3 separate regions of the Homo sapiens genome follow, and regions 1 and 2 are each linked to region 3. Evidence: fine-mapped expression QTL. A gene starts in region 3. Each other region holds a variant in brackets. All regions are shown on one strand. Distances are from middle to middle. Region 1 holds the start of CLEC1B (C-type lectin domain family 1 member B). Region 2 holds the start of LINC02470 (long intergenic non-protein coding RNA 2470). Region 3 holds the start of CLEC12A (C-type lectin domain family 12 member A).

Region 1 (6,056 bases), 28 kb after region 3:
GAGATTTTAGAAAACTATCTTATTTTGCTGGAGTGGAAAGAAAAGCTAATTTATGTAACTGGATATCTTCCGTATGCGTCTGAGTCCACAGAAACAGTAAGTGGACAGCACAGCAAGTTAGAACAACAGAGGACACAAATAAATATGAACATCACTGGGCTGACTCTTCATGTGTGACCCACTATGTACCTGAGCTGTCAGGAAGGGACAAGTCAATTTGACTGATCAACTCTATCAGTGTTGTAGAATATTATGAGTGGATTGAATATCTGGGTTCTGTAATTCTTACTAGGTTTCACAAGGGTCTTAGATTAGTACAAACTGAAAGATGTTAAGAAAAATGTAAAAAACAAAAAAAGGTCAAGTGTTACATTTGAGGTTTCTCTTCCTTGCCTCCAAAATATTTGACATAAGAATCTTCTTACCACAATGTTCCGGTTGTCAATCTTCAGGAGAGTAGCATTCATGTCAGTGCAGTACTGCTTACTCTCTTCCCATGTTAAGTTGTGCCTGAAGAACCCATAGCAGCTATCTCCATAATATCTCCAGTTTGTGTCACAGGGGCTGCATTTATGACCTTCTGGAGAAACCAAGCACAGGAATGGTGTATTTTTTCTAAATTGGGCTTACATTTTCTTCACATTCAATGTTTTCTGCAGATCTCAAACTCCCTTCAGTTGCCATCAGAGAAATGCTCCAGGGGTTGGAGAGATGAAGAGGTTAAAAAAACAATACTTACTGAAAGTGCCCTTTAGTTCTGATTGTTTTACCACATATTGACAGAAGCGCTTTGCTAATTGTTGCAGAGTTCCTGTGCGATTTTCATTCTCACCTTGTAGGTAATTGCGCTGCATGACAGCTAGGTTTAAAAAGTAAATAATAATAATTTGTAATTAGAACCATAGAAATGATGCAAAGGTCTGTCATTGAATTTTCATTTCCTTAACTTTGCCAATATATGAGGAGTTTACTAGATACACATGATTAAATGAATGTTGAAAAGTGTGGAGGGGCTATAAAGAACAAATTAAGAAATACACAGAACTGACGCCTGAGGGTTAATAAGTGAACTGTTTGAAGGAGACAATCACAAATAAAAAATCCCAACATCGATAACATCCCCAGAGCCTGTATTCATTTGCTTGAATACAAGCTTCTCAGCTGAGTTATAGAGGTGAATGACCTCTTATTTTCTGTTCTTTCTGTGATGCCAAACTATTCATTCATTTAAAAATACATACTGATTTCTTGTTATGCTTAAAGTACTTGTGATATTCAGGTAAATAATAAAGAAATACAAGAGGATAAATGTTAGATTCTAACATCTTTTAAAAAAATCAACAAATACACAAACAAGCAACAACTACACAGACTTCAATGTGCTATTGGAGGGCCATGAGAATTACAGAAAGAAGAAATGCACAGTAACTTAGTAAACAAAATGAGAAACAGAAAATTTTAGGTAGAGAGAATAGAATGAGAAAAATTTCAGACAAGGGAACATGGAATTTATATATGAAATTGAAAAACTCCAGTTTGGCTGGTTCTTAGGAATGCAAGATAGGAAAAGGGATGAAAAAGTTTTTAAAAATAGTTTGGATCCACACTGAGGAGGGTCTTAAAGGCCAGTAGTACATTCTTAAAAATAACTTTTCATTAGTTAAAATCTTAAAATCTTATTTTAATCACAAGGAAACAGTCAGTGTTCTCCTTTATTGAGATTCTCTTGGCAACTATCTGTAGGACAACTGTAGAAGTGATAAACAGACAAATAGCGACCATTGAGAAGCTTAGTGGGATATGCCATGACCCTTCAGTATTACCTTCCTCCAGTCAAATTTCTGGCAGAGTCAACACTTACACCAAATCCCCAGAGCCACCAGCCCGACAACCATCCCCACGCACAGGATCAGCAGAATCAAAGCCATCACACGCCACCAGGAGGAGGATGCAGAGCCAACTGTAGGCATATAATAAAGACATCAAGGAGCAGGCAGTATGGGTTAGCTATGGGGAAGGCTCACCCCTGCCCCTGCCCCTGCCTTCTCAGGGTCCTCCAAGTAATAGAAAGAGCTTTGCTGGCAGATCTCACCTGTGTTCTCCTCATGATCATCAACAATAGGCATGGCCCACCCCTATACCATACATCCATTCTCATCTCCAATGCACTTTACCTCTCCAAGCTGAAATATTACTTGCTGTTAAGGCCTGATGTGTTTGTATTTTTTGTTTTGTTTTGTTTTGTTTTGTTTTGTTTTATGCTCACCCATGCCATAAATAATTGCTTTAATAAACAGCAAATGAAGAATCACACTCATTTGCTCACATATAGAAAATGAAATTTCCACTCTTTTCCGTTATCCCCTTGACTTCTATGCCCTCGAGTATTAAACGCTCAGAATCTTAATGCAATTTTCCCTGCACATATATTGGATGTTTGTAATCTAAATAGGTCTGTATGAGCTTATGAAAACACTACTCAAATGCTTTAGAGCATTAACATCATTCAAGAAAAAGAAATTAAACTATATATATTATCAATAGTAGAAAAAGAAAGAATTGAATCAACTCATTTTTTAAATTAATTTCCAAATTATTGGCTCTGAGCATTCTTACCGGAGATGAGAGCTGGTTTCCGAGTTTTAATATTTAAGGTGATGTATCCATCTTCATCCTGCATGGCTTCCCGAGTACTGCAACTGAGCTCAGAGTTCAATGACTTTGCAAAATGTAGTTTCCAAC[T/TC]TTACAATTTCAGTATCTGTCAGTTTATGATCTTCCTGTCTTTAGTAGGGTAGAACCATGTGAGATGGGACACATTTGTTTTCCTTTGCTTATTGTTTTCCAGGAAGCTTCTTCATAGCTGCTCAGAGATACATGGACCTTGAACACAAAAACACAAAAATAATAATAACTTGTGGTAAAGGAGTAGATAAGGTATTTGCTTCCTGCTTTTTTTTTATCTTCAACACTAAATAAAGGGACATTCCATCATGTGCATCCTTTCTAAGAACAAAAGTTCATGCTTTATCTTAGCCCTAGCTTAGTCTAAATTACATTGCTCAAATGAGAGATTTCTGCTGAAAATTCATGGATATAGCTCACCAGCAGATATATAGTTTATCTCATTGTGAGAAGCAAGTGTAATATAATTGGATCTGATAGGGGCTAAATTAGCTGTTTCATAGTCTTGTGTTGGAAGAGATCATTCCTGATTATGACCTAGAATTTACACAACTTCTTGCATATTTCATACTTTTTTTTATTTGAAGGATCCACATGAGGCAGGCCTGATATTGCTTAGATTTAGGTATTGAAGGAAAACTATCAAATCAAGTAAAATAATACAGAGTTGGTGACTTGCTGCATTGTTCTTTAGTAGTGTTTGTGCTTTAAAGTGAGTTTCCTGGAATGGAAGAATTTTGATTTGATGAAATCACTTCATTTCAAGTACAGCTGTGCTTAGATGAATATTTGAGACTGAATGGTTCCTAGCACCTTTTCATCACAATATAATATGTATTGCACACACTTAACTTTATGAAATGGGCTTTTACATTATTTTAGCTTGCACTGAAAGTAGTTGTAAGAACAGCCATACAAAGCTAGCTGATGCATTTATTATAGGAATATTGGGGAGGATGTTGTCTATTTTGCCATAGGGTAACTCTTACATAGTTTTATGGCAGATTTTTATTTTTGTTAAATCACCATGACTAGCAAAGCTTTAAGTAGTAGGCATTTACCTTATAAATAATTTGAATTCTATTTTTCTTTACTTAGCAGAGTGTTAGACTTTTCAATATAGTGATTATGTGGGCTGCAGTAGCAGATATTTTGTTTATTAACATGCCCTTTGGCATAGCCCGTAGATTTTTTCTCCCCTGCTATCTCCTTCACTCTGAATTTCTTGTCAATTCACTTAAAATTATCTTTCATTCTAAATTTCTTTCTCTATACTCTTCAAATTATTTTGAGAATGAGGTGAAGAATAAGCATAACACGTATAAAAGACATTCCCTGATTTTGGAAAGCCAAACTTAGTATGATTCAAATATTTTTACCAAAACTAATTCTTAATTAAAAAAAAACACATTTGAAATAAATGCCAAATTTTAAGAAAAGACTAAAAATTTTTAAAAAACATTAAATCCCAACACCATTTTTGTTGCTGTGTTTCTTATCTCAGTTAAAATATTCAGGGGTTCCCAATCATAAGCTGGGTAAATTCAGTCACTTACCATTCATCTACCACTGCTTCTGTTCTCATAACTTCTGTTTCAGCTAAAAGGGATTCTTCGCTCTCCCATCATTTATCCTCAGGCTTTTCTGGAAGATTGGGGTTGGAATGGGGTTTGATCCTCCCTCTCTTCCTTCCTTTCTACATCTACTCATCAGCAAGTCCTGAGGCTATTCTGTCACAGTAACCCCTGTCTTTCACGTTCTTTTGGTCACTGCTTTCCTTCAGTGTTTTGTTACCTAAAATATACAGAAACACTAAAAAATAATCGAATAAATAACTGTGACAAAGTAACAGAGAGAAAAGAAAATGTGTGGAGGTTATAGTACAAATGACACTTTTCCAATAAAGCTTTACTCTGTTCTCTTAGGTACCAAACAGGTACATATGAAAACTTAATTTGTTACATTAAATCAGATATGTAAAGGTAAGATCCAAGGACATTGAGACAATTTTTAAATTATTGTAAACATTTTTTGTTTATTAACAAAAACTTTAAGATGGTATTAAAGAGAACAATTAGATTGCTTTGTTGAGGTTTCCACATTCTCTAGGACTTGAGCAGCTGATTTCATTATAAAACATGTCCCATGTATTTTTGTAAACCACCAGGAATGTGCCAGGATTAGTTCTTGATCCTTTAATGCTTAGAACTGCATATTTAATGCCTGAAGTAGGTTAACACTCCGCCTTTGAAGATATTCCTTTCCTATATCTCAGGCTCTGGACTTTCCATTGCTTCATTCCTCTTTCTCATTGTAATTTAACCTTGCTTTTTGGATCTTTGATCATTCCAGCCACAGTCTGAGAGTCTTATATCTTATCTGTGTTCCACAAAATATACGTTTGCCTTTCTGTGTATCCCCCCTCACATGACTTTGTGGTGTTAGAAGCAAGCTGAGCGAAGACAGAGACTCTCAGGGCCAAAGGAACTAGCCCTTGATAACATTGAGTTCTAATTTTGCTCCCTCCCCACATTCTATAAATGTAAGTTGAGTTACTCAGCAAAAATTAAGCAGAGAACTGCAGGAAAGAGAGATAGATATCACAAATGCTTCTTTTCCTTTTCCCAAATCCAGAGTCTTTGCTAGTTACCTTTTAATCACCCTCCAAGTCCCGTTATTAGCTTATTTTATTTCTGCTTCAATATTTTAACCTTGCTTGAATATCTTATTCTCTTCTCCTTTTCTTCACTAAGGAAACTATATACAGCTAAACAAAATCTTTTTTTTTTTTTTTTGAGACTGAGTCTTGCTCTGTCGTCCAGGCTGGAGTGCAGTGGCGCCATCTTGGCTCACTGCAAGCTCCGCCTCCTGGGTTCACGCCGTTCTCCTGCCTCAGCCTCCCGAGTAGCTGGGAGTACAGGCGCCCACCACCACGCCTGGCTAATTTTTTTTGTATTTTTAGTAGAGACGCGGTTTCACCGTGTTAGTCAGGATGGTCTTGATCTCCTGACCTCGTGATCCACCCGCCTCGGCCTCCCAAAGTGCTGGGATTACAGGCTTTAGCTACCGCGCCTGGCCTAAAAAAATTCTTTATTCCAAATTTCCTGATGAAATTGAATTTAAAATAAAACCTTTTATTCATTCAATATTTTACAGATTAAGAACACTCTAAATTGTCTGTTTTAAAGGAAATATTTAATGAATGTTAATTATGTTTCAGACACTGAAATTGGTGCTGAGTATTCATGGAGAAAAATCATGAGGTTAGTCTTTATGAAGCAGAGTGTTAGATTTTAGCTATGTGAACTTCTTTAAAAAAATTTACAAGTTGGGTAATGTTTTTTTTTTTTTTTTTTTTGAGACGGAGTCTCGCT
Region 2 (6,056 bases), 29 kb before region 3:
CTAAAATGTCACCATCTTATTGGGATATAACCTTACCTGCAGTAAACCCACTCCCTTAATTTTCATTTTTTTGCATAAAACTTTCCAACTTCTAACACAATATATAAATTACATATTTAATAAGATAATTTTTCATTGCTTATCTCTTCCCCTAGCATGTAAACTCCACAAGGGCAAAGATCTTTGATTCTTTGGTTTGCTAATGTATTACACCCTAGGAGTGTGCCTGTCTTTTAGTAGCTATTAAATGAGTTTAATATTGCAAAGAAGAAATCTAACCATTTCATTCTGAGAGTTGAGCCTGGCCAGAGATCCATAACTTCTGCAGTTTTCTCAGCCATTGATCCACGTTGTTTCATGTTCAGATTGAAAGAAGCAATTATTATTGATTCAGTTCCAGCCTTGTGGACACATAGTCAAATTTTCTAGGCATGTCTTGTTTCTAAGGTGCCTTGGAATTCCAACTGAAATTAACAGGTAATAGAGAAAAAGAATAAAGAAAGTATCAAAGAAAGAAAGAGTGAGCTTCAGAGTAAAATATTATTATATAGCTCAGACTAATAAAATGTGTTTTACTTACATATTCAATTTGAATGACTTAACTTTAAACATCAATTCAAAAAAATTGAATATCGAGAAGAGAACATGAAAGGAATAAGCACTGGAGAATGAGAGCTATGAAAAATTTAAAAACTCAATAACAAACTTCCAGAAATTCAGTATCTTCCAGCCATTTTCCCTCCTAATTTTTAGACTACATGAATTTTCTTTATTCATCTATTTCTTTCCTAAAATTTACTATGCTCTCTAGAACAAGTTGCAGTGTAAATAAACAAATTTTTCTATATTCATAACTTCAGTGAGCTGGTTCCTATCATCAACTTAACTGAGACTATATTGTCTTTCAAAGACAGCATTTCTCTAGAAGGTGGCGCTGTTTCCTTGTCCGTTATGAAACAAGAAACACAGAAAAAAGAATGCTAAAATTTCCCTTTTTACTCTCCACTTTTACTCCTTAAGTTACTGCACTAGATAAAGGAAGTTCCTTGTTAAGGTATAATCCTGAAAGAAACAAGCTCTGAGAGCACCTCCTATCCACAACTAAAATAAATGACTGGTTCATCTTCAAATCTGTGAGTGGGAAAATCCTCAATGGGAAGGATCAACTGGCAATATGGTTCTATATAGTTGAGACCTGAGAGTGAAGTGAAAAAATCAAGTTATCAAAGTTATTTGAATGTGTCATGTTCAAAATTATTTTAAAATGTCAAATTCAAATCAATAACCAATATAAAAACCAAATACTTAATTCAAAACTTGGGTCACCAGAAAGGCAGTTTTCTCATTCATTTACTAATTAATTCATTCTTTCATTTACGCAGTCAACAACTACCGATTGAGCACCTGCTACACGCCAGACATTTTTGTAACTCTATGAATAGCCTACATAACATACAGAAATACCTACTCTTATGGGACTTATGCGTCTGAAATTATATAGTTTGTCGTAAAATAGATCAGAGTGAAGGAGAATCAGGGAATCACGGTTGTTGGTAAAATGAGTAGAAAGCAAACCACAAGAATATGGCGTCATGTAAGTCAAATGAAATTTTTTTTTTTTTTTAGAAAAAGGGAGTGCCAAAAGCTGCAAATAGGTTATATAATAAGGTGAGGAGGGAGAATGGACCAGTCGATTTAGCAATATGGAAGTTATTGGTGAACTTGAAAGACAAGTTTGGTGGAAAAAGCAGAGTGGAAGCTTGATCCAAGTGGATTTAACAGAAAAAGGAAAGATAAAAAATTATTTTGAAAAGCCGTTTTAAAGAGGTTGCTGTACCAAGGAGAAAAACAATAAATTGGTTGCTAAAAGATAAGTGGGGTCTAATAAATTCTGTTGTTTTTGTTGTTTATTTTTTCAAGGTTGATATAGATACCAGTATGTCATATTTGCTGATGGAGATGTTTCAGTTGAGGATGAAAAAAGGATAATGTAGGAGAGTGGAGAATTACTAGGGTGATATTACTGATCCAGTGAAAGAATATAGGATCTATTGTAGAACATGAATACTGCATCTACAGTTCCAGGAGTCTAGGCAGAGTGTAGGGGCAGAGATGGAGTAAGTAAGCTGGTGTGGTGATGGGAGCATTTGGAAGTTTCCTACAAATTGTTAAAATTAGAACAAGTTGGAAGCAAGGGTATAGACATGAGAATGAGCATGAGGAGAATGGAGATGAAGGACAAGGTATAAATTGCTAATGAATGGCAGTGAAAGAGTTAATGCACTAGGGAACTATAATACAATTGCCAGTCCCTCACCCTACTTCTTTGTAACTCCATCATAATTATACCTGGTGTGATTCTCTGACATGTGTGTTCTAAGATGATCTTTGATAAACGCCTACTTGAGTTTAAG[A/G]TTCAGCACAAATATTTCTCCCTTCATTAAAGCCTTGACTACAAGCAGCTAACTTATAATCTCCTCTCCTGCTTCAAATTCAACATAGTTCTATTTAGTAATTATTTCTTTTGTGTTACAGTTGTTTGCTTACATGCTTCCATATTCAGTTAAAGATAAACTACTTTCAGGCAAGAAATACCATTTTTTTTCATTGTTATATCATCAGCAGGCAGCACTGTGCCTAAAGCTTGATACATATTTATTGAAAGACTGATTATTCTAGAAGGTGAAGCAGGTGACTAAGTTTGAAGAGCAATTAGATGCACTGTCTTGGAAAATGCTTTTATCTCTAAATTGTTCTATATTAAGGAAGGAAAGACTAGTTATTGGTATCCAACTGAATCAATAATACAATAATTTTAACAATTTAATTTAATAATTTTAGCAGAAATTGTTTACTTACATTTTCTGGGAAATCTTAAAATCCCCCAAAGAAGAAAAGCAATGCCTCCACATATAAAAATTGAGATGATCATTATTTTCCTTTCTATTATACCAAAGAGAAACAGATGTCATTGTTTATGTTCCAGAGAGAAAAAAAGCAAGCAAACCAACAAAAAACCCATCATGTTTATCTCTTTTCTCTATCTTCCGCGTGTTCTACTGTTCACAATTCAGCAATTAATGTATTAGAAAAATAAGAAAGGGAACTAAGACCTAACGTTTGAACATCAGGAGCCTCGAAGGTGCTTTGGCTCCACTTTCCTGTGCTATTTGGCAGAACTGTGTTACTAATTCTTCTGCCCTGCTTCCAGAACAGAAAACCAACAGTTTCCTCGCAGCGTCTTTTAATAAAATACTGCCTTTTCCAAGGGAAAATTCCAAGTATTTTTAATGAAATACTGTCTTTTCCAATATGATGGAGGAGGCTGGAATCGCCAATTATCATTATTATTGAAGTCTTTGTTTTATTAATGAAAACTGCTTTTACTTAAGATCTATATTATGGTCGCTATCCCCTACCCTGCCCTTCCCTCCCAATGCTAAAAGGGTGCAAGCTAGGATCAAGAAAAGATGCTAGAATAATCACACAACCTCACCCACCTGGCGTGTTGGTCTGCTGCTCCACAACCTCCGTCCCATCCTTACTCTCCATCCCTTCTCCCTCCATCTCCAACCCTCACGAGGAAGGCTCATCCTTCTGTGTGTGATCACAGAGGCTGGAATAATCCTGCGGGTGAATTGCAAATTGCTAAGTATATTTGGTGAGTGCAAACCGCAGGAAACTGACGACCCGGTTTTTCTGAGGGGTGGTGCGGCAGCAAGACAGTAGGAGAAACAGCACAGCAACCTAGCATCCTCCACTCAGCCGCGCAGGTGGACTTGGGCCAGATGGCCCCCAGGGGCGTGTCATGTGCCTTCTCTGACGTTTGTACGAGGCAGGGGCAGCAACGGCAGCCGGGCATGCACCAACGGTGCCTCTGCCCCGGCAGCGATGACTCTACAGCCCATGATTTCCGCAGCCCACGATTGGCTGGGGCACAGCGATAAGAATTCAACCTAATGGGCACCTCACCTCCCACCTGCTTGGTACGCAGAGCAGAGAATGGGGAGTCCCATACCCTCCCTTTCCGGCTTCTTTATATTGTCTCCCTAAAAATCTCCGATTGGACACAGGTATATAACATAAATTGCCTGCACTGGAAAGTGTACACATTCTCTCACGCCACAAAGTGGATCTGCCCCCATTTTCTTGTTTTTAATAACTTTTTTCTGTTCTACATTTTTAACCACTGTGTTCTAAGTGTACCTGTGGAGTGTTTAGTAAAATGTGGGAAAACAAAGCCATTGTTTTTACATGTTTTCATAGGAACTAATGAAAGCTTGTTTCATATACAGGCAGTTTTTATTTTGCACTGTAGTGTGTGATAATAAAAATTACTGCACAAGCTGATATCACACCAAGCTATTTTAATAATAGGGAAAAGTATGATTTTTCCTTTATCCTCTTTTCCTGATTGAAAATTACTTTACTGTCACTCATAAACGTATAGGGAAATGTAAACAACAATAAAATTAATATTTTTAAAGTATGCTATAATTAAAACATTAAAAACACTGAGTTTCAAGTGTTTTGCTTAAAAGAAAATGAGTAGTGTGAATTGAGTACGTGCTGTTGTTGTTCTATCGCTTACAATATGGAGCCAGCATCTTTTAGATGCCTTCTCAAGCTTTTTTATTCCTAAATTTGGATAGACTTCCAATATACTATTCTTTGCACTTGAAATGTTAGGAAACACATTGAGAGTTCATTTGATGTGAACACTTTAGCTCGTATAACTTCCTCTGGGACCTCTTCATTCTTTTCATCACAACCACTTACCTTATTTTTGTCAATAAGTGTGCCTTTACTAAATTCCTCTGGTTGCATTATCTAGAGACTCTTCAAAAGGTGAATTATTAATAACCCTATCAACAGCTATTGCTTCTCTAACTTCATTTCTCTTCTATTTTATTTCCCCTTTCAGCGCCATCATTTTTTGCTGCACTTTGTGTCACTAACCAATTTCCTGTTTCAATTACCTTCCTCTTCTTGTCTTCCTGTTTCAAATTTCCTTTGGAATTTGTCATACAGTGACAAACCCATGTGACATTTACAAAATAATACAGAATAACTCTCCATCTTATTCTGTATTAACTGATAAAAGATGCATGGTGACCAATCAATCATTGACAGACTTGGAAAAAAGTGACATGGTTGGTCGTTAATCACAATACAAACATGTATATAGTGATTCGTGAACTGAAAAACTAGCATGGAAGTTTCTACTTTATACAATTACTTACAGTAAATATAATACAAATACAGATAAGTACGCTGAAAGAATTAAACTGTGCTGTTGGGGAGTTATTTAATTAAACTGTGAGAAGTGAAGTTTATGCATATTAGAACCACGCAAAGTAAAGTTTATACACACACCCTACTCCCCACAGACATTCTCTTTAAAATATACATATACGGCCGGGCACTGTGGCTCACGCCTGTAATCCCAGCACATTGGGAGGCTGAGGCAGGCAGAGCATCTGAAGTCAAGGAGTTTGAAACCAGTTTGGCCAACATGGTGAAACCCCGTCTCTACTAAAAATACAAAAATTAGCCTGGTGTGGTGGCAGACGCCTGTAATCCCAGCTACTCAGGAGGCTGAGGCAGGAGAATCGCTTGAACCCAGGAGGCGGAGGTTGTAGTGAGCCGGCGTCCCGCCATTGCACTCCAGCCTGGAGATATATATATATATATAAATTTTCATATATATATATAAATTTTCATATATATACACACACAAATACATATACAAACACATACATATGCATGTATAAGCATATATTGTATGTGTATAGACCTTATTCTATACATAAGAATTATTTATACTTATTTATGTAATGTATTCTTGTGACTTCAGTAATTAATTAGCACAGATTTCAAAGCTATAAATGGTAGAAATGTGGTATCTCACAGTTCTGGAGGCCAGAAGTCTGGAATAAAGAGGCTCTGAGGAAGAACCTGCTTCACACCTCTCTTCCAGCTTCTGGTGGCTGCTGGCAATCCTTAGTGATCCTTACCATGAAGTTGCACCATGCCAGTCTCTGCCTCTATCTTCT
Region 3 (6,056 bases):
TGCAATAAACATGGGAGTGCAGGTATCTATAGTATATATACACAATGGAATATTATTTGGCCATAGAAGGAAATGAAATCCTGTCATTTGCAGAAACAGGAGTGGAACTGAAGGTCATTATGTTAACTGAAATAAGCCAGGCACAGAAAGACAAATATCACATGTTTCCACTCATATGTGAGAGCTAAAAGAATGAATCTCATGGAAGCAGAGAGTAGAATTGTGGTTACCAGAGGCTTAGAAAGGGGTGGTGGGGGATAAAGATAAGTTGGTTGGGTACAAAAATAAAATTAGATAGAAGGAACAAATTCTAGTATTTGATAGTACAGTGGGAAAACTATAGTTGACAATAATTTATTGTATATTTCAAAATAGCTAAAAGAGAAGAAATGTACTATTCCCAACAGAAGGAAAAGGTAAGTGTTTGACGGAATGAATATTCTTATTACCCTGATTTGGTCATTACACATTGTATACAGGTTTCAAAATATCACATGTACCTCCAAAATACATACAACTATTTTGTATCAATAACAAAATTTTTAAAAAACTGATATAGGCTGTGAAGGGCAAACCATGTAGTCATCTCAGAGCTCAGCTTATTCTTGTGGATATAAATGTTTTAGCTGGCTCTAAACCAAGGATTTTGTATGAAGTAATACTTATTCAAATATTTTCAACAAAATAGAGTACCTTGCAAACAGGACTTTGAGATTTTTCATTTGTTTCCCTTTACAGTTCGTCATATACGCTTCATCTTCTAGTGTTGATTGATGAAACAACGTTCCACATGAGACAGCAGAGCAATAGAACACAGAACAGGACTCTGCCTGTGTGGTGGCCGGTTTCCATCCTTTCACAAACAAAGAGATATTTATAAACAAATATTTATATGCAAATATTTGATCCACCTAGGAAAAATAGAGGGCTACTCTTTCCCACCAGGAGAGGCCTTATAGCCTGTGCACATATTTGAACAAGGCAACCAGAGACTTTGATGGTCTCAACTCTACCACTCACCAACTGTGTGATGTTGGATACAAACTTAACCACTTTGCAACTCACTTCCGCATCTGTAAAATAAGGGTGATAATAATAGCACCTGGTTTAGAGAGTTGTAAAGATAAAAGCAACATTAGTAAAGTACTTAGGATGAAGTAATCATGTTTTGAATATATTTTCCTTTAAATGTGGCTGCCAATATTTTCATGGTAATATTTTCAAATGTATTCAATAGCTTTTTCTTTATCAGGAGAAAATCAGTTGTTTTAATTAAATTGACATTGAATTTTTGATACATTTAGGAGAATTTAGTTTCTTTTTATACAGTATTGACGCTTCTAATCCCACAGCATGTTTTTCTATTTTTTTCTTTTCTTCAATAGTTTTAAAATTTTTTTGTTCATTTTGGTTATGCAAATATCTAGTTAATTTCTATCTGTAATATTTTCCTATTTATTTTTAGTAGCTCTTATAAAGGGAGCATTTTGTTTTTCCTGTCTATCCTGACATAATAAAGCAATTAGTTTTTAATTGATTTTTAAAAATATTTATGCATTCTCTTTCATATGTATAATAATAATACCTAACCATTTTATGATTTACATGTGGCAATGTCAAGAAGAATTTTAAAGTAAGATTTACTAACGAATATTAGAGAACATGCTCAAAAACAGTCCTCTCCACCCCCTCACTTCCACTTGCATTCTTGATCAAGAAGTGAAATAAAAAATACTAAGACTATTGAGTCAAACTAATAAGACACAAATCTGGACTTTGGAGACTCATTTCCCTCCCACTTTTGATAGCTTAGCTGAGGAGGAGATCAAATGGTTGAGTCAGTCTGTAGAGAGATAGCAAGGCTGATTATAGTTTTCCTGGCCTGCAAAGCTGTTTCCAGAGCCCTCAGTATACAGACCTTGGCCATCAGTATGCATACTCTCTGGTGTGGTTTCTGGGCATCAGATCCCTTAATATATAGGTTGGCGCTAAAGTAATTTTGTAAACTTTTAATGGCAAAAACCACAATTACTTTTGCTTTTAATGGCAAAAACCAGAATTACTTTAGCACCAACCTATATATTGTTATTTAGAGAAACTAGGCATTCCCTACCTCTCTTAGGCAAACCTATAGCTATGTAACATGGCAACGGAATGACACTAACTGTCTCATTCTCCTTGGGAGTGCTCTCTGTATGTTCAGTCTCCCAGTGAAGAGAACCCTTCTATCAGGACCTTCATCATCATACAAAAGGAATATCTATGCCAGGCCACAGCTGCAGATTAGTGAGTGTCTGAGAACTGCATCTTTTCTGTTATTTTTCTGCTTGAAAGTTTTTCACCAATAAATCCTACACTATGTCTGCACCATGTGGTGCTAGTTATTTGTGTTCTCTTGCATGACACTGATGATGTTATCCAAACACAATTTCAAAAACTACTTTCTGTAGTTGGTAAATATATAGAAATTGAGAAAAAGGAAGAAATATGAGGAAGAAAGATGTTATCTGTTGCAACAGTTCAATGTTCTTAACTGAAGCCACAGATGAGATTTGGCTCATTTGCAGACATATGGGTGATTGGTACAGTAGGTTTATAAACAGAAGTTTAAACTTGTAAGCTTAAGCTTCCGTTTATAAACAGAAGTTTAAAATTATAGGTCCTGTTTAACATTCAGCTCTGTTAACTCACTCATCTTTTTGTGTTTTTACACTTTGTCAAGATTTCTTTACATATTCATCAATGTCTGAAGAAGTTACTTATGCAGATCTTCAATTCCAGAACTCCAGTGAGATGGAAAAAATCCCAGAAATTGGCAAATTTGGGGAAAAAGGTAAGATTTTGAGTTATGGATGTGTTGTAAGTTTGTATAATAGAAGTGGTTATAGACTTGCATCTTCAATATTAGTGATATAGTTACTATTCAACTTAAATTTTCAATTAAGTCTCTTATGTTTAAGCAAAGGAACAAAAAGTGTATGAACAAAATGATTAGAAAAAAGGGTTTTGTAAAAACACTTATCTCTGCATTGAATAATCAATCTTTTACATTTTTGAAATTTTTTATTATCACACTCAATATAATTGGGACAGAATTTTTCAAATGATTGGGTTGTATGAAGATTTTATTTCTTTATGAGATGAAGCCATGGAAAAAGAAACATGTTCAGGAAAGTCATGATTTCATATGTGTGTGTGTGTGTGTGTTTTTTTTTTTATAAGAAAATGCTTTGTGTCAGACAGAGAGACCTTTATAGGATTTCATTTGACTATCTACCAAACTAAGCATAAATCACCCTAAAATTTCTCCTACTTCTTTTGGAGATTTTTTACTAACTTACTAAAAAATAAAACATGTTAAGTTAAATGAAATGAATCATTAAGGAATAAAGGAAGAAAAGAGGTAAAGAAATATCAGAAGACATAATATATTCATAATATTCAAAACCACATTATATCAAGTAACTTTGTATTTTTCAATTCAAATTAAAATCATGAAATAAGTGGTCCATCTGTGTTGACTTTCACTTAAACAAAACTACTCTTCATCTTACTCAGAATCCTATAGTTTTCCTATTATGTATGGTTCTTGCCTTCTGGCTCCTAGCCTTTTGGGAGTGAAATCTGCCCTAGCGAATCCATAGTTTAAATCAGTGTATTTGAGTTAAAAATAACTTAAACAGTGATAGTGGAGAACACAAAGAAGGGTGATAGAAACAGAAAAATAAGGAGAGAAGAGTGCCAAAATTCTCACATATTATTTAAGTTGTTGTCCTCTCTCCTCTCCCCACACAGAATATAACATCTTTAATATTCTAGCATTGCTATAAACAGAAATTTCACTGTTACATCTTGGATCCATTTATGATGAGCATTGTAAATCTTGAGAAAGGATAGCAGATTAATTCTGTTGGCTTCTTTTTTAATACTGAAATTTTTTTTTAGAAAGAAGAAGGGTTTAAGAATTTTACAATATTTTCTGTCTTTATTTCCTTGTTTATATTTCTTCTTTTATACACTGAAAGAGAATGGGCATATCATGAGCCTAATATTACCAACAATTGCCCTTTACTTGTCCTCTCACACCCTTTCCCACCTCTTTTCCTGCCAATCCACCTTAAGTTCCCACCACAAGAATTCCCTGAATTCACGGAAATATTGAATCCATGTCTTCTTCATGTTCTTAATCTCATCTAATTTTCTCATTATCGAGCTTAGAATCTACATTATGTAATATAACATTGTATTATGTAATGTCTACTCTTAGTCTCTTACACTTCTCCTCTTCAATGTGTGTTAATTTTTCCTTAAAAACTCCAGCTCTGGCTAGGTGCAGTGGCTCATACCCATAGTCCTAGCACTTTGAGAGGCCAAGATGGGAGGATTATTTGAGGCCAGAAGTTTGAGACCAGCCTGGGGAAAGTAGAGATATGCCATGTCTATAAAAAAAAAATTTTTTTAATTAACTGGGCACCCATAGTCTCAGCTGCTTGGGAGGCTGAGGAAAGAGGATTACTTGAGTCCAGGAGTTGGAGGCTCTAGTAAGCTAAGATCAGGCGAGTGTACTCCAGTCTGGGTGACACAGCAAGATCCTGCCTCAAACAAATCAAAACAAAACAAGACAAAAACCCCAAAAACAAACAAATAAAAACAACTCCAGTTCTGGTTAAACCCGAATATCCACCCAGTCTGCCCCAGAGTTGAATATTGCTGGTGAAAAATACACAAATTTTCAACCCCAGTTACTCTCACCTTTCCTCTGGTAAGAAAAAAGCATCCATCTACACTTTTTTTTGTTGTTATTTAAATGTCTATCCTACCATGTCCTTACTGATACTCTGCTTTCCTTCCAGATAGTATTTACGATAAGTATGTACTTATGAAGGGACGGCTCCTCATTTTGCTCTGAATTTCAGTCCATGTGTCGTTTTCAAAGACAGACTTCCGTAATTTTTTCCTTTCTCTCCTGTGTCATTATTCTCTCTTCCTTCTCTGCTTTTCCTTTTTGGTGCACCAACATACTCTACTACTCACCAATATACTCTGCTACTCCTTTTATAACAAAACACAATCCTTGCTTGACCACTTAAGCCTTTCCATTATTATTTAACTTCTTTGTTTCCTTTCACAACTCAACTTTTGAAAGCATTTTCTTTGGCCACTGACTCTCAGTTCTTCACCTCTCATTCTGTTCTCAACCAACTCTATTAGGCTTCTGCCCCCTTGGTGCCATAGAGACTGAGCTTTAGGTCACTGATGTCCTGCCTGTTTCATCCCAATAGTCACATGTCTCTTCCATTACTTCACTTCCCTGCAGCATTGAAAAAGTTGAACAGTCCTCTAAATGCTTTCTTTGCACATCCCTCCTGACACATCCTCATGGCTTCTCCTGTCACCATGCCTGCCTCTCCTCATTCTTTGTTGATTCCTCCTCCTAGATGAAACTCTACAAGATGGAATACTCTGAAGCCCTGTCCTGGGTCCCGTTTTATTGCATCACTCAGTACACTCTTCTAATCTACCTCATTCAGTTGTTTGACTTTAAATAGAGTGACTCCCCAATATCTCTGTATGACCTTTCCCTGAATCTCAAGACTAGAAAATACATGTGCCACTTTCACATTTCCATAAGGAGTTCTAATCTCATTTTAAACTTAAAATGTCAAAAATAGTAATATTTATTTTTCTTCTAAAATTGTCTCTCTCTCCAGACAGCCTCATCTCATTAAATACACATATAAATATATATTTAAATACAATTTTCAAGTGTTTTCTCTGTGCCAGTTCTGTTCTAATTGCATTATAAATATTAAATTATTTAGTGTCTGATACTTTGCAGTCTTTCTGTCTCCCATGCTTTAACCATATTGAAACTCAGACACAGAGATGTTAAAAGGTGTTAAATAATTTTCCCGAGGTTTCACAAGCAATAAGCAGCAGAACCAGAATTCAAACCAAAACATACTGATATGGTTTGACTGTGTCTCCACCCAAATCTCATCTTGAATTGTAGCTCCCATAAGTCCCACATGCTGTAGGAGGGACATGGTGGGAGG

What was found. PIP is the estimated chance that this variant, and not a neighbour inherited with it, causes the effect.
Region 1: its variant is fine-mapped to the expression of CLEC12A in monocytes after R848 (Quach 2016, PIP 0.95).
Region 2: its variant is fine-mapped to the expression of CLEC12A in whole blood (TOPMed, PIP above 0.99).

Annotation. Positions count from the first base shown.
Region 1 is chr12:9,996,421-10,002,476 of GRCh38, forward strand. It overlaps CLEC1B (C-type lectin domain family 1 member B), which reads right to left and starts at 2,701. Exons shown (of 6, transcript NM_016509.4): 1 at 2,617-2,701; 2 at 1,862-1,960; 3 at 740-859; 4 at 426-580. The coding sequence starts at 2,680. It also overlaps a transcript of CLEC12A not described here. The variant T/TC (reference allele first, on the strand shown) is at 2,743.
Region 2 is chr12:9,939,630-9,945,685 of GRCh38, forward strand. LINC02470 (long intergenic non-protein coding RNA 2470) reads right to left here and starts at 3,866. Exons shown (of 5, transcript NR_104634.2): 1 at 3,501-3,866; 2 at 2,860-2,943; 3 at 280-464. The variant A/G (reference allele first, on the strand shown) is at 2,415.
Region 3 is chr12:9,968,855-9,974,910 of GRCh38, forward strand. It overlaps CLEC12A (C-type lectin domain family 12 member A), which reads left to right and starts at 2,555. Exons shown (of 6, transcript NM_138337.6): 1 at 2,555-2,833. The coding sequence starts at 2,743.